2 separate regions of the Homo sapiens genome follow, and region 2 is linked to region 1. The links come from fine-mapping of genetic effects on gene expression. Tissue or cell type: subcutaneous fat. Region 1 holds a variant in brackets; the other region holds the start of a gene. All regions are shown on one strand. Distances are between the middles of the regions.

What was found. PIP is the estimated chance that this variant, and not a neighbour inherited with it, causes the effect.
Region 2: NTN5 starts here. The variant in region 1 is fine-mapped to the expression of NTN5 in subcutaneous fat (FUSION, PIP 0.90).

The regions. Positions count from the first base shown.
Region 1 is chr19:48,752,427-48,760,426 of GRCh38, reverse strand. It overlaps FUT1 (fucosyltransferase 1 (H blood group)), which reads left to right and starts at 7,786. Exons shown (of 2, transcript NM_001384359.1): 1 at 7,786-7,937. It overlaps FGF21 (fibroblast growth factor 21), which reads right to left and starts at 4,903. Exons shown (of 4, transcript NM_019113.4): 1 at 4,643-4,903; 2 at 3,956-4,536; 3 at 3,398-3,501; 4 at 2,097-2,497. The coding sequence starts at 4,190. The coding sequence ends at 2,207. RefSeq lists cis regulatory regions at 3,122-3,128, 4,936-4,944, 4,972-4,984, 4,619-5,179, enhancers at 3,952-4,815, 4,816-5,681, 6,998-7,584, promoters at 4,223-4,990, 4,936-5,027, 4,459-5,065, 4,223-5,191, 1,761-5,300 and a silencer at 7,700-7,749. The variant A/C (reference allele first, on the strand shown) is at 3,711.
Region 2 is chr19:48,668,672-48,676,671 of GRCh38, reverse strand. NTN5 (netrin 5) reads left to right here and starts at 3,655. Exons shown (of 7, transcript NM_145807.4): 1 at 3,655-3,740; 2 at 5,666-6,316. The coding sequence starts at 5,686. LOC105372431 (a long non-coding RNA gene) reads left to right here. Exons shown (of 3, transcript XR_936016.3): 2 at 1,041-1,431; 3 at 2,885-3,526. It also overlaps the pseudogene SEC1P. RefSeq lists a silencer at 1,027-1,176 and enhancers at 802-1,449, 1,450-2,098.

The sequences.
Region 1 (8,000 bases):
TGGGTGGCAGAGAGAGACTCTGTCTCAAAAATAAACAAACAAACAAACAAATAAATAAAAGTAAACGCCGGGTGCAGTATCTCACGCCTGTAATCCCAGCACTTTGAGAGGCCAAGGTGGGCAGATCACTTGAGGTCAAGAATTTGAGACCAGCCTGACCAACATGGTGAAACCCCGTCTCTACTAAAAACACAAAAATTAGCTGGCCATAGTGGTGGTGCCTGTAATCCTAGCTACTCCAGAGCTGAGAATCGCTTAAGCCCAGGAGACAGAGGTGGCAGTGAACCAAGATTGTGCCACTGCACTCCAGCCTGGGCAACAGAGCGAGACTCTGTCTCAAAAAACAAGCAGCCAGGCGTGGTGGCTCACGCCTATAACCCCAGCACTTTGGGAGGCTGAGGCGGGCGGATCACCTGAGGTGGGGAGTTCGAGACCAGCCTGACCAACATGGAGAAACCCCATCTCTACTAAAAATACAAAATTATCTGGGCATGGTGGCGCATGCCCATAATCCCAGCTACTCGGGAGGCTGAGGCAGGAGAATCACTTGAAGCCGGGAGGCGGAGATTGTGGTGAGCCGAGATTGTGCCATTGCACTCCAGCCTTGGCAACAAGAGGGAAACTCTGTCTCAAAACAAACAAACAAGCAATCAAACAAACAAACGGGTGTGGTGGCGCTTGTCTGTAGTCCCAGCTACTCGGGAGGCTAAGGCAGGAGAATCGCTTGAACCCAGGAGACGGAGGTTGCAGGGAGCCGAGATTGTGCCACTGCACTTGGGCCTGGTGACAGAGCGAGACTCCATCTCAGAAAAAAAACAAAATAAGATAAATAAATAAATAAATATTAAAAAGTTCATAAGGACCCAGATGGAAGAATTCCAGGTTTCAGCTCCTTTTCCTGAGAACCCAAACTCCCACCCTCCAGCCCCTTTTTTCTCAGACCAGGATGCCTAAGTCTGCAGTCCCCAGTTCTCCTGTGATCCAGGTGTCCAGATGTCCAGCCCACTGATTCCCCAGAACTTGGGTGTTACACTAGCCCCAAACCTACTCCAGGACCCAGGAGTCCTTGTCCCAGATTTGAGGCCCAACAGATCTCATTCCTGCTGCTAAATGATGCCAGAAAACTACATCTCCCATGAGGATGTGAGTGTGCTGTGTCACCTCGTAAAAGCTCCCCTGTTATCGAGGTAGCTCTATGAAATAGTTACACAACGCTCACACAAGTTGAGGGGTTGTAGAAAGAAGTCCTGCTCTTTCATTTTATTTTTATATTTATTTATTTATTTATTTATTTATTTATTTTTTTGAGATGGAATCTCGCTCTGTGGCCTGGGCTGGAGTGCAGTGGCGCGATCTCGGCTCACTGCAAGCTCCGCCTCCCGCATTCACGCCATTCTGCCTCAGCCTCCGGAGTAGCTGGGACTACAGGCGCCCGCCACCACGCCCAGCTAATTTTGTTTTTGTATTTTTAGTAGAGACGGGGTTTCATCGTATTAGCCAGGATAGTCTCAATCTCCTGACCTCGTGATCCACCTGCCTCGGCCTCCCAAAGTGCTGGGATTACAGGCGTAAGCCACCACTCCCGGCCAGTCTTGTCCTTTCAGAGAGCAGGGATAGTCCACAGTCCCTGGGGACACTTTAGCAGAGTAGAAAAGTGAGGCTGGGCTGGGCACAGTGACTCAAGCCTGTAATCCCAGCACTTTGGGAGGCCAAGGCAGGCAGGTCATGAAGTCAAGAGATGGAGAGCATCCTGGCCAACATGGCGAAACCCTGTCTCTACTAAAATTACAAAATTAGCTGGGTGTGGTGGCGCACGCCTGTAATCACAGCTACTCGGGTGGCTGAGGCAGGAGAATTGCTTGAACCTGGGAGGCGGAGGTTGGAGTGAGCCAAGATCGCGCCACTGCACTCCAGCCTGGGTGACAGAGCGAGACTCCGTCTCAAAAAAAAAAAAAGAAAAGAAAAGAAAAAAGTGAGGCCCAGTGGGAAGCCAGGACCCTCGGACCACGTGAGGGGAGGTGTAGAGGGGATTGTCCGGGCCAAGGGAGACAAAACAGCTGCCATGTCTTCCCTCAGACACTCACACATGCTCATTCTTATCCTCCTCTGGAACTCTTTATTATCTCAAGTAAGAAAAATAAAAAAATAAATAAGATAAATAACCTAATAAATAAAGAGGAGATGTCATAGTAAACAGCCTCTGGCTTCAGGAAGCGTAGCTGGGGCTTCGGCCCTGGGAAGGTCCCACCATGCTCAGAGGGTCCGAGGAGCCCACATCGGGGGGCTGGGGGGCCAGGATTCCGGGTGGCTCCGGGAGTGCGGGGGGCAGGCCTGGTAGTGGCAGGAAGCGAGCTGGTCCTCGGGGTGCAGGGTCCCGGTGTGGGGACTTGTTCCCTGGCAGGTGCAGCGGGAGGCCGTGGGCTTCGGACTGGTAAACATTGTATCCGTCCTCAAGAAGCAGCTCCCGGAAGCTGCAGGCCTCAGGGTCAAAGTGGAGCTAGGGGACAAAAACAGGATCAGAGACAGGGTTCCTCTGTTTTCCTGATGTAAGACCCAGGATCCAGGCCCCAGCCCTGCCTCCCTCAGACCCAGGGGTCCAGGCCCCCAGCGCCTCCTCCCTCAGACCCAGGGGTCCAGACCCTAGTTTCTCCTCCATCCGACCCAGGAGTCCAGGCCCCCAGCGCCTCCTCCCTCAGACCCGGGGTTCCAGGCCCCAGCCTCTCCTCCCTCAGACCCGGGGTTCCAGGCCCCAGCCTCTCCTCCCTCAGACCCGGGGTTCCAGGCCCCAGCCCCTCCTCCCTCAGACCCAGGGGTCCAGGCCCCCAGCCCCTCCTCCCTCAGACCCAGGAGTCCAGGCCCCCAGCCCCTCCTCTAGGAAACAAAACAGCAAGGCAGGTTTTGTTTTTTACCCCAGGGCTCTCCTGCAGGGACCTGCCTCCCAGTTCAGACTTCACAGAGAACATTCCAGCCCTCGGAGCCATCAGTGCTCTCTCAGGCCAGGCGGGGTGTCTCCCTAGCACTCAAGGTCCTGGTCACTTTACTGGCCATGGCTTCCCCGAGTGTCCCTGTGCCCAGCATGAGCCGTGCACACAGGGGCCGTGTGGGCAGGAGCAGGGGTTACTGAATCACGAGACTCCCAATAACCTGAGCCTCAGGCCGCTCCAGCATCCACACATCACATGATTGAGGTCACTGGCGCCCCGGCCTGGGCCTCAGTTTCCTCATCTTGCAAACACTGATGACAACTTCAACCTCCAAATGTTGCAGCTGGGGGCGTGCAGAGCAAATAGAATCAAGTCTGGCTCCGGGGGGGATGAGCAAGACAAGGCACCCCAGGCTGTGAGGGCGACATATAGGAGGAGCATGGTGGGTGGTGAGGAGGGTCCTGGAAACTCACCGATCCATACAGGGCCCCATCTGGCCGCTGGCACAGGAACCTGGATGTCTTGACTCCCAAGATTTGAATAACTCCCGGCTTCAAGGCTTTCAGCTGCAGGAGACCTAAGGGGTGAAAGCGATAAGGTGGTTCGAGGACCTCTCCCACCCGGGACTGTCCCACCACCCGACTCTGTCCCACCATCCGGCTCTGTCCCAGCCCTGGGAGTCCAAGCCCACAGCCTACCTCCTCCCTCAGACCCAGGAGAAGCCCAAGCCAAAGCCCCCTCCCAACTCAGACCCAAGAGTCCAGGACCCCAGCCCTTCCTCCTTCA[A/C]ACCCAAGAGTCCAGACCCCCAGCCCCTCCTCCCTCAGACCCAGGGGTCCAGACCCAGCCCCTCCTCCCTCAGACCCAGGGGCCCAGATCCCCAGCCCCTCCTCCCTCAGACCCAGGAGTCCAGATCCCCAGCCCCTCCTCCCTCAGACCCAGGGGCCAAGGCCCCCAGCCCCTCCTCCCTCAGACCCAGGAATCCAGACCCACAGCCCCTCCTCCCTCAGACCCAGGCTCTGGCCCACACTCACTTTCGGGGCTCTGGTCAGCAGCGCCCCCCACCGTCCCATCCTCCCTGATCTCCAGGTGGGCTTCTGTCTGCTGGGCATCATCTGTGTAGAGGTACCGCTGCCGGACTTGGCCCCCGAATTGCAGGAGAGGACTGGAGTCAGGGATGGGGTGTGCCTGGCAGGCTCCCAGCAGAAGACCAGCCAGCACAGAAACCCACAGTCCTGAGTGCTCGAACCCGGTCTCGTCCGAGTCCATCAATGGCTCGGGTCCTCAGGTGATCTCCGGGGTGTGAGCTCGGAGAAGCTGAGTGGTTTAGAATTGGTGCCAGATTCCAGTTGTCCAGGTGAGTAGACTCAGGTGGCCTGAGTGCCTGGCTCCTCTTTCGGCTGGATCCTCAGCTGACAGAACACCCTTGTTTTTTGGGATAGATGCAGAAGCTCCAGAATTTATACCCAGACAGGCCCGCCCAATCACCCTCCCTGCGCCTGAACCATGATATTTGACCCATTTGGCAGGAGCTACAGAATTCCATCGTGGCAAGGGCAGCCTGAATGGATGATGTAACCTGGGGTCCTTTCAATGGAGGGCCAGACTCCTGGGTCTAGGGGATGAGGGAGGGGAGGATCGGGTTAGCTGGGACCCAGGTGAAAGGGGCTGGGGGCCCACATTCCTGAGTCTCAGAGAGAAGGATCTGGGGTCTCAAGCACCTGAGTCGGAGGGAGGAGGGGTGCTGGGCTCCTGGAAAAACCACCTCTTGGACCATCTATGCAGATCACGCAGAACAAGAGAAATTTCTGCGCCCCATCTGAATTTCTAAGTTTGGGGGGAGGGCGTGATCTGACACTGAGGTTCCTTGATCCTCAGCAAGGCGGCAATTGCTGTATGAAAGAAGCGACCGCATCTGAGACACAAGTATCCTGCCTTGGAAGCCTCTCACCTGGCCGTGGGCCAACCTCAACCTCATCTGTCCCTGCTCAGATGCTCAGACCCTGGACATCCCAGCCTCCTCCTCCCTGATGCAATCCTGGTGTTTCTTTCACCAGAGAAGCCATCCCAGGCCCAGGCAGGTGCTCCTGAAATAACCTGGGGGGAGGGGTGGCTGAAAGTCCCTGACTGGAGTTGGCAGCCAAGCCAGGCCCTGGAGTGGGCACCCAGAGGGAAGACAGGTTGGCTAATTTCCTGGAGCCCCTAAGGGTGCAAGGGTAGGCCTTCTGTGTCTGAGGGAGGAGGGCTGGGGCTCTGGACTCCTGGGTCTGAGGGAGGAGGGGTGGGGGGCCTGGACTCCTGGGTCTGAGGGAGGAGGGTCTGGGCCTGTACTCCTGGATCTGAGGGAGGAGGGGCTGGGGAACTTGGGCTCCTGGGTCTGAGGGAGGAGGGAGCTTTGGTCTGGACTCCTGGGTCTGAGGGAGTAGGGGCTAGGGATCTGGACTCGTGGGTGTGAGGAAGGAGGGGCTGGGGTCCTGGACTCCTGGGTCTGAGGAAGGAGGGGCAGGGGGCTTGGACTCCTGGGTCTGAGGAAGGAGGGGCCGGGAGCCTGGACTCCTAAGTCTGAGGGAGGAGGGTCTGGGGGCCTGGACTGCTGGGTGTGAGCAGAAGGGTCTGGGTGCTGGGAGTCCCGAGCCTGGGGAGATGATGGTTAAACTTCTGGGAATCAAGTCAAACTCCTGAGTCTTTGACATTGATGTATCTTGAATGGGAGGGTCAGTCTGTGGGGAAGGATTACCCAGGTGCCGAGGCAAGAGACTGAAGGCACAAACTGTTTCAGTATAATAAAGAAAATAGTTAGAATAAGAATAGTTATCATACAAATTAGATATAGAGATGATCATGGACAGTATCAATCATTAGTGTAAACATTATTAATCATTAGCTATTACTTTTATTCTTTGTTGTATAACTAATATAACCAGGAAACAACCGGTGGGTATAGGGTCAGGTACTGAAGGGACATTGTGAGAAGTGACCTAGAAGGCAAGAGGTGAGCCTTCTGTCACACCGGCATAAGGGCCTCTTGAGGGCTCCTTGGTCAAGCGGGAACGCCAGTGTCTGGGAAGGCACCCGTTACTCAGCAGACCACGAAAGGGAATCTCCTTTTCTTGGAGGAGTCAGGGAACACTCTGCTCCACCAGCTTCTTGTGGGAGGCTGGGTATTATCTAGGCCTGCCCGCAGTCATCCTGCTGTGCTGTGCTTCAATGGTCACGCTCCTTGTCCTCTTGCATTTTCCTCCCGTACTCCTGGTTCCTCTTTGAAGTTCGTAGTAGATAGCGGTAGAAGAAATAGTGAAAGCCTTTTTTTTTTTTTTTTTGAGGCGGAGTCTCGCTCTGTCCCCCAGGCTGGAGTGCAGTGGCGTGATCTCGGCTCACTGCAATCTCCGCCTCCTGGGTTCACACCATTCTCCTGCCTCACCCTCCCAAATAGCTAGGACTACAGGCGCCCTCCACCACGCGCCCGGATAATTTTTTGTATTTTTAGTAGAGACAGGGTTTCACCGTGTTAGCCAGGATGGCCTCCACCTCCTGACCTTGTGATCCGCCCGCCTCAGCCTCCCAAAGTGCTGGGATTACAGGCGTGAGCCACCGCGCCCGCCCGAAATAGTGAAAGTCTTAAAGTCTTTGATCTTTCTTATAAGTGCAGAGAAGAAAACGCTGACATATGCTGCCTTCTCTTTCTGCTTCGGCTGCCTAAAAGGGAAGGGCCCCCTGTCCCATGATCACGTGACTTGCTTGACCTTATCAGTCATTTGGACGACTCACCCTCCTTATCCTGCCCCCCCTTGTCTTGTATACAATAAATATCAGCGCGCCCAGCCATTCGGGGCCACTACCGGTCTCTGCGTCTTGATGGTAGTGGTCCCCCGGGCCCAGCTGTTTTCTCTTTATCTCTTTGTCTTGTGTCTTTATTTCTTACAATCTCTCCTCTCCTCACAGGGGAAGAACACCCACCCGCAAAGCCCCGTAGGGCTGGACCCTACGTTAGCCTGCCCTGCTCGGGGTTGGCGATGCTGGAGGTGGGCCTTGGACCAGAGAAAATGCTTTAATTAGGTGACAAGCGGGCAGAGGCCTTTGTCTCTGGCGCCGGCAGCCACGGCCCCCGCTGACGGCGTGGGAAACAGACCCTGTTCCACTCCGGTCTCCAGCCTTGGAATGGTTGCCTTCGTGCAGTGCAGGTCTGGAAAGTAGCAGTTTGGCACGGGACCCTAGAATTCCCCAAAAGGAGTGACTAGGGGCTGGGATTCTGGAATTTGAGTGTGGACGGTGAGGCGGGGGGTGTGGGAGATCGGAGACCCTGGTGGGCGCGGGAGCACCTGCAGGCTGGAGGCCCTCGCGCGCTCCGGCGGCAGCCTGGCAAACAGGTTCTCCATCCCCCAGGAGGACGCGGCAGAGGGCGGACGATCGCTCCACTCGCCGGGACCAGGTGCGGGGGCCCTGCCCAGCCGCTGGGGCGTGGCCAGGCTCGAAGCACCCAGGTGTCGGGGGCCGACTCTAAGCCCTGGCACCGGAAGAGAGAGGGCGGCGGATTGGACCTCCCGGCTCCAGCATTGCAACTGGGCGCTCCGTCTCCTGGTCCACGCAATGATGCTGCGGCTGCTCAGAAGCCAGGTAGCCTGCCCTGGGTGAAGCCTTCGCGCAGGTCAATGACGGGGCGGAGGGGCAGGGCGCGGTCCCCTGCATCCCCGATCTGGGGAGCGGTGGGCCCAGGGGCCATCGCCTTAGCCCCTGGCGCTGGGGCTCGGCGCCAAGTGACGGGCGGGGCTCCACCTTCCAGCCATCCGCCCGGCCCGGGAGGGCGGACGCTGCGAGACTCCCGGCCGCGCCCTCTCCTTCCTCTCCTCCCCAAGCCCTCGCTGCCAGTCCGGACAGGCTGCGCGGAGGGGAGGGCTGCCGGGCCGGATAGCCGGACGCCTGGCGTTCCAGGGGCGGCCGGATGTGGCCTGCCTTTGCGGAGGGTGCGCTCCGGCCACGAAAAGCGGACTGTGGATCTGCCACCTGCAAGCAGCTCGGGTAAGTGGGGACTGCCCCACTCAGTTGTTCCTGGGACCCAGGAACAACTCCTTCAGAACCAGG
Region 2 (8,000 bases), 84 kb after region 1:
CCCTGACCACTGGGCCTGACTGGGCTCCAAGGACCTCGGTCCCGGTCCTCGCCGTGGGATGGATGGTCCCTTCTCCGGGGGCTGCTCTTTCCGAGTCTCCTCCAGCTCTCCCCAGGGCTCCCAGAAGGTCCTCTGCTCCCAGCCTCTACCATGTCCTGATCGGCTTTCTCTTCTCCCCTTGTCCACTCCTCTGACCAATGTCCTATGGTTTCCCTGTGGCCACTCCAATGGCTACAGCTCAGCAGTCATCCCTTCACCCCCTCCCTCCCACCCCATTCCTGCTGAAGCCCTGGTTGGCATGGGCTCACCCCTAAAACTTCTGGCTTCTGCCTCACCCCTCCCGGCTCCCCATCTCTCCCTCCGCCTGTCCTCTTAAACATCGGGGGCCTACAGGCCTCTTCAACTGTCATCCTCCTCTATTCCAGGGCTCCTCATTTGGTTCATCTGGCCCTTCTGAGAAGCCTGAACAATCTGGGGCCCTCCAGGCCTCTTCAGCTGTCATCCTCCTCTATTCCAGGGCTCCTCATTTGGTTCATCTGACCCTTCTGAGAAGCCTGAACACTCTGGGGCCCTCCTTGAAAGTCTCGTGTGGGTCCCCAGCAAGGCCAGCTGGCCTAAGGCCTAAGAAAAATGCTCCTGGTGCTGCTTTAGTTTGCAAAAAGTGAATTAAATCTGCCCAAGCCTTTTTTCACTGAGCTGGTGAAAACTGTGTCCCAAACATGATCTTGCCATCCACTCAACTCAGGGTCCTGCCCCACGGAGAAGGAGCTGAGCTCTGAGCCCAGCTGGAGCCCCCAGGCAGGTCCCAAGGCTAGAGCTGGGGTCAGTGGGGGTGCAGGGCAGGGACAGGAGCCTGGGTCACTGGCCAAGGGAAACCAGCTCAGGACAAGGGTGCCCCCCGCGGGGTCCGCCTTCATTTTGTGTGACTCGTGCAGTTGCGCTGAGACAGGCCCCACGCTTGCTTTAATGATCTGGTGTTGCCGTCTTAAAATCCTTCATAAATTCTAAACAAGGGGTCCTGTGTCTGCATTTTCCCCCAGGCCCTGCAGATCAAGCAGTGGGTACCGCGGCTGCTCTGGCTTCTCCTGGAATCTCAGGTGCTCCCTCTTGTGGCTGTTCTCAGCCTAGACAACCAGAAAGCCGCAGAAAAGCACCAGCCAAGGCCGAGGCTGCGAGGGTGCTGGCGGGCAGGCCCATCACGGGGCTGGCTGTCCTGGTCCGCGATTCCTTGTCAGCCATTTTCCTCAGGGGGAGCGGCAAACGCCAACCTGGACTGAACTCATCTGGGGACAACCCTGGCTTGGAGGAGGGTCATGTGGCTATTTGCAGACTTTACTTCTCTTACTGTGAACACCCATGTGCTCTGCTGCCTAAAACATAACATGTTTGACAATGTGATGCGGCCCAGACCTACCATGGATGCCATGTCACGTACGTACTATGCATCCGACAACAGGGCCAGGAAGCAGAAGGTTCCGGAACACGACTTTCCCAGAGAGCTCAGATAAGAACCCGTGGGCATGTCAGCTCATTCAGTCCTCATGACCCCCTCCGCCCACCATGAGGAAGGTCCATTCTTTCTTCCTCATTTAACAGATGAGGAAATGAAGGCACAGAGAGGTTAAGAAGCTTGTTCTCGGTCACACAGCTAGGACAGAGGTGGATTTGAACCCAGGCAGTATGGCTGGGGTTACCATCCTGGCCTTTTTGAACATGTCCGGGAGGGCAGGCCCTACCCAGCCACACAATGCCCAGTAACTCCTGCGGGTGACCTGCCCTGCCTCGTGGAGACTCCGTTATATCTGGGCCACCAAGGCAGGGGTTAGAGGTCTGTGTGAGCCCAGCACTGAGGTTCTCTCTGGGTTGAACCCACCTCAGAGATGTGCCTTGGGCAGGCCTGGCCTTCTGTAGAAGCTGTGAGGGTGAAGGTCTCCAGCCCTTAAAGAACTCTCCCCAACAAAAAAAACAGTCTCCTTCCCAGCTTGGGGCACTATGTGCTCGGCTGTGGCAGCTCCGTCTGTTCTTCCCCGCCTGCCCCCGGGCACCCGCAGGGGCGCCCATCAACTCAGGCAGCTCAAGCTGCAAGGAACAAAAGCTTCCCTCCAGGAGCCGGAGCTTGAGACTTCGCCCAGGTGGGGAGGAAGACGCAGCGAGACCTAAGCCTTCTTCCTCAGTTTTGTGTGGCAGCAAAGCTGGGTTCTGTGCTGGCGGTGGGCTCAGCACAAATGCCCCTCCGCATCACCCCACTTACATCTGCAATCCCCGGGCCCCCGTGGCCGCCCCCCCCACTTGCTTTGCTCCAAGGCACTTGGCACCTTCCAACAACCTAGAGCACAGAAGGACCTGCGCTGCTGGGGTCTCCCCCTCCCTCTCTGGACACTGAGCCTGATGGGGCAGGGGTCTGTGTTCCCAGCGCGAACCCCCGGCAAAGTCCCATACAGGGGGAGCTCAGGCAGGGTCAGCGGAGGGACCTGCGCCTGAATCCCGAAGTTCCACTCTGACTCACACAGCCTGGGCCCCCAGCTCTGACATGCCCCCTCTGATGGGGGGCGTCTCAGCCCCATTCCATCCTCCTGCAGCTGATGCACCTCCCAGCTTTCGGAGTGACTCCCTTCTTTCAAATCCGATGTCCCTGTCCTGCTCCTGCCAAATCTGGCCCCCTCCAACGTGGTACCTAAGGGTCCAGAGTCGAGGGTCGCCTTTGCTGTGCCCTCGCACCCCCTGGGGGCGGGCCTGGGGCAGTGGGTCCCAAGCCTGTCAGGATTGGGCCCACGCTACACCACGATAAACGCTGGGGCCACCCAGGGCAGCAGGTGCCGCGCCCCAACTCCATGAGGCCCTTGCTTTTCTCAGCGGGAAGTGACAGAAAACATTATTTTTCTAGTCAACCCATTCGGAGATGGAATAGAACAGACAGCAACATTCGCATGAAAATGTCACGATGAAAGCACTGAGGACTCGCAGGACACCAGCGGCACTGGGGAGGTGCTTTTGAGCTTGGTCCCCCGCACCCCGGGGGTCCCCGCCTTCTCCCTCTGCCGCATGAGAAACACTGGGGCCCAGGTGTTCTCAGCTCATTTGTCGCCTTCCCCACCATCTTAGAAAGCGACTGAGGTCTTTTGAATTCCAGGGGCTGGTCTGAACCTTCCAAGAGCACAGATTTTACTGACCTTAAGGCTCGGTGAACCCACAGCTGACAAAAGGTTCCAGAGAGGAGGAGGAGGGGCTGGCTTGGGGTCACGCAGCCAGAGGCAGGGGCTGAGCAAAGTTTCCAACAGCGATTGTCTCCCAAAGGTCAGCCCCTGCCCGATCGCGATGGCGGCCACCACAAGGCGGGGCTGAGCCAGTGGGCAGGGGTGGAGTGGGATGGAGCGGGACCCCCGACTGACAGCCTCCCGTCCTACCTGCGGTGAGCCTCCTAGGCCAGGCTGCTCGGGGCTGTCCTGCTGCTGGACCGCCGGGGGCAACGGCACTCACGTCCCACACCGTTGCGGGTGGCCTGGCTGGCAGGGGTCCCTGTGGGGATAGCGTGGCTGCGGTTGGTGAGGGATTGGGGTGGGAGGGGGGTGGCGGTGTTAGATTCTGCGGGCTCTGCTCTGAGCCCCCGCCCAGCCCAGAAACCCCACTAGCCTGGGGCCTGAGAACAGCCACGCCACTCCCTCCTGAGAGCCCACCGCGCCACAGCTTGGAGGAAGAGCCTGCGGGGAACTGGCTGCAGGACGCTCTCTTCTTGAGTGCAGGTTTGGCCAATGTCGGGGCCTCAGGGCTCGGGTTGGGGGGTGCATGCCAAGAGCCAGGGAAAGGAAGCCTGGGTCCCAGATGGACCCCAGGCCGCCCAGGCAGGCCTCCTATGAGTCTGCTGGGAGCATGGCTGGACTCTTTCTTAAAGAGGGGTATGGGCTCTCTGTGGGCCACGACTGGTTTCTGGATCCCCCAGGAACACTAGGGAACTCACAGCCTGGTTCCTCAAGGTGCTAAGGGCCAGAGGGTGCCACCCCCTGAACTATCCAGCAACTATCCAGAGAGAAAGGGGACATGGGGGACTGGCCCTTAACAGGATGCTGCTGAGGGCCAGGCAGGCGGCTGCCACCTGAGTGGGTGCAAAATGGCGCCAGGCTCCTTGGGAGGGCGGAGGGCGAGGCCTGTCATCTGGGCCAGGGGAGGCAGCGTCTGCATGTGGCCAACAGCAGTGGGGACATGGGCAGTGAGGCCAGGCTGGGGCAGGTGTGGCCCACCTCAACCGCCAGGGTGCCCCAGAGATGCCCAGCCCAGGGACATTCCTGGGCGCAGATTCAGAGCCAAGGGCCTGGAAAGGCTCCGAGGCCCCCAGTCCACAGTGAGCTCCTCACCAGAGGCTGCTGGCCCTGGAAGGGGAAAGTGGGGGCATTTCAGAGTCCAGTCCTTCCCAGCTCCTGCCATTCCTAGGGTCTGGGCTTCTGCCCCCACGGGCGCCCTGGCATCTGGCACCCCACCCTGTCCCAGCTCCTGCCTTCCTGCCTCTCTCCTCCTCATTACCCACCGCCCCCAACATCTGTTCCCCCATCTGCTCTGGGGAACTCTGGATGGGTGGAGAATGTGGGGACTCTGGTCTCCAGGCCCTGAGGCCCAGAATAGAGGGCAGGGTTGAGGTGAGCAGAAAGTCCCAGAACGCTAACTTCCGGTCCCCACACCCTGAGTTCTGAAGGGAACCCAGGTGTCTGCTTCCCCTGACCCCATGGGGATCCCACTGTCCCGCTCCCAAGCCCCAGAGCCACCCAGGTTCCAGCTCCCAGCATCCCTTTCCTCAGCTCAGCTCTCTGGGCTTTGCACTCGGGTGGGAAAGGGTTAAGGGTGGGGCGCTGGGGGTGGGTGGGCGGGTGGCAGGGAGGCTGGGTTGTTTGGTGATAATCCCCTTCCGTGCCCAGGGTGTGGAGAACAAGGTTAGGGCCCCATGTGGGAAAGGCAATGGCTCTGATCCCTGCAGGCCTGGGCCTCGGTCTCTCACTTCTGATCCCCCGCCAGACACCCCTAGCCTGTCCCCTTCCCTCCCCTCCCCAGGGCCTGCCAGGCTGGGTGTCTCTGAGCCCACCTGCCCACCTATCCCAGCCCCCAGGCAGTCCGAGCCTCAGTCTCCCAGCTCCCTGTGGCCTCTGGGTGCCTGGCCTCTGTCTCAGCCTCTCAGCCTCCTGTCTGTTCCTCTGTCTTTGCAGCAACTTCTCTGTGCCGAGCGCCTCCCCTAGGCTGACTGTCCTCTCTCTGCCTCTGTCCTGTCCTCTATTTCTTTGTGACTGAGTCTTCATCTGTCCCTAAGCCCCCTCTCCTGCCCAGCCCTGCTTGTCTCTGTGTCCCTCTCTAGGTTTCCACGTCTGCTGGCCTTGGCCAGCCCCTCTGCTCCAGCCGCTCACCGCTCCCCAGGGCCCCCTGCCCCTCGACACTGACGGATAACTCTGGGGTGTTAAGCTACGGATTAGTTCAGGCAAAATTCTCGATTTTGTCTGCGTTCTTTCCCCTTTGGGTTATGTAAACAGTAATTCTCCCCAGATGGAACTATTTTCCTCGCTTCCATGCAGCCGGGGAGGGGGCCTGGACGGGTTGGGGGTGGAATGCCCCAGTTCCACAGGACACCTCCAGGAGGGGTAGAGGCTGCGGCTGAGATCCCCAGCCCAGCCACCTCTCTTCCCTCCAGGTGCTGGCTCTGCTGTGACCATGCCCGTGACCTTTGCCCTCCTGCTCCTCCTGGGCCAGGCCACTGCGGACCCATGCTACGATCCACAGGGCCGCCCCCAATTCTGCCTCCCGCCAGTGACACAGCTGGCTGCCGTGGCGGCCTCCTGCCCTCAGGCCTGTGCCCTGTCCCCAGGAAACCACCTTGGCGCCAGGGAAACCTGCAATGGCAGCCTGACTTTGGCCCTGGGTGGCCCCTTCCTCCTGACATCTGTCAGCTTGCGCTTCTGTACCCCAGGACCCCCAGCCCTCATCCTGTCTGCTGCCTGGGCCTCAGGGGGTCCCTGGAGGCTGCTGTGGCACAGGCCCGCCTGGCCTGGGGCCTTAGGGGGCCCTGAAAGGGTGACCTTCCACTCCACACCAGGTCCTAAGGCCACTGTGGCGGCCAGCCACCTCCGTGTGGAGTTTGGGGGCCAGGCCGGGCTAGCGGCAGCTGGGCTGAGAGGCCGCTGCCAGTGTCATGGCCACGCTGCCCGCTGTGCCGCCCGTGCCCGGCCCCCCCGCTGCCACTGCCGCCACCATACCACTGGCCCGGGGTGCGAGAGCTGCCGCCCGTCCCATCGAGACTGGCCCTGGCGGCCTGCCACGCCCCGGCACCCCCACCCTTGCCTACGTGAGTCCTGCGCCCCTCACTCTCCCTGCCTTTGCCTGCCTGCCACTGGGTCCTTTGTCCCTACGGGAGCAGGATGTTCCCTTCCCTCGCTGGAACTGGGTGCTCCTTGCCTCTCACCCCAGTCTCAGACTCGGTCCCCTCATACCTCCTCCCTGCAGCCAGTCCTGTATCTCAGCCACACATGGGCCTGTCTGCTCATGAGGGGCTCAGCCTCTCCCCAACACTCATCAGCCTGTGATGATGGTGATGATGATGATGATGGTGTGATGGTGGTAATGGTGATGATGGTGGTGATGGTGGTGGTGATAATGGTGATGACTGTGGTGGTGATGGTGGTGGTGATGATGGTGGTGATGGTGATGGTGGTGGTGATGATGGTGATGATGGTGGTGATGGTGATGGTGGTGGTGATGGTGATGGTAGTGGTGATGATGGTGATGGTGGTGGTGGTGATGGTGGTGGTGATGGTGATGGTAGTGGTGATGATGGTGATGGTGGTGGTGATGGTAGTGGTGGTGATGGTGATGGTGGTGGTGGTGATGGTGATGATGGTGGTGATGGTGATGGTGGTGGTGTGATGGTGATGGTAGTGGTGACGATGGTGATGGTGGTGGTGATGGTGATGGTGGTGGTGGTGGTGATGGTGGTGATGGTGATGATGGTGGTGGTGATGGTGGTGATGATGGTGATGGTGGTGGTGTTGGTGGTGGTGATGGTGATGACTGGTGGTGGTGATGGTGGTGATGATGGTGGTGGTGGTGATGGTGGTCGTGGTGGTGATGGTGGTGATGGTGGTGGTGATGGTGGTGGTGGTGATGGTGGTGGTGATGGTGGTGGTGGTGATGATGGTCGTGGTGGTGGTGATGGTGATGGTGGTGATGGTGGTGATGATGGTGGTCATGGTGGTGATGGTGGTGGTGGTGGTGATGGTGGTGATGGTGGTGGTGATGGTGGTGGTGGTGATGGTGGTGGTGATGGTGGTGGTGGTGATGGTGGTGGTGATGGTGGTGGTGGTGATGGTGGTGGTGGTGATGGTGGTGGTGATGGTGGTGGTGGTGATGGTGGTGGTGATGGTGGTGGTGGTGATGATGGTCGTGGTGGTGGTGATGGTGGTGGTGGTGATGATGGTCGTGGTGGTGGTGGTGGTGATGGTGATGGTGGTGATGATGGTGGTCATGGTGGTGATGGTGGTGGTGGTGATGGTGGTGATGATGGTGATATGATGATGGTGGTGGTGGTGATGATGGTGATAGTGGTGATGGTGGTGGTGATGATGGTGATAGTGGTGGTGGTGGTGATGGTGATGGTGGTGGTGATGATAGTGATAGTGGTGATGATGGTGGTGATAGTGGTGATGATGGTGATGGTGATAGTGGTGATGATGGTGGTGATAGTGGTGATGATGATGGTGGTGGTGATGATGATGTAATAACAGTTTCCGAGCACCCATCCCAGGGCCTGGCTGGATGCAGGTACTTGGGTAATATTTATTGAACAGTTGTAGGGGAACAGGACAGCTGGATGGTACCTGACTCCTCAAACCAACCACAGGGGGAAAGTATTCGGTCATTAAACACATATTTATCAGTCACCTACGTGTGCCAGGCAGGGATGTCATCAGGCCCATTTTACAGATGAGGAGACTCAGGCCTAGAGTTCAGAAGTCCCCTGCACAAGGACACAC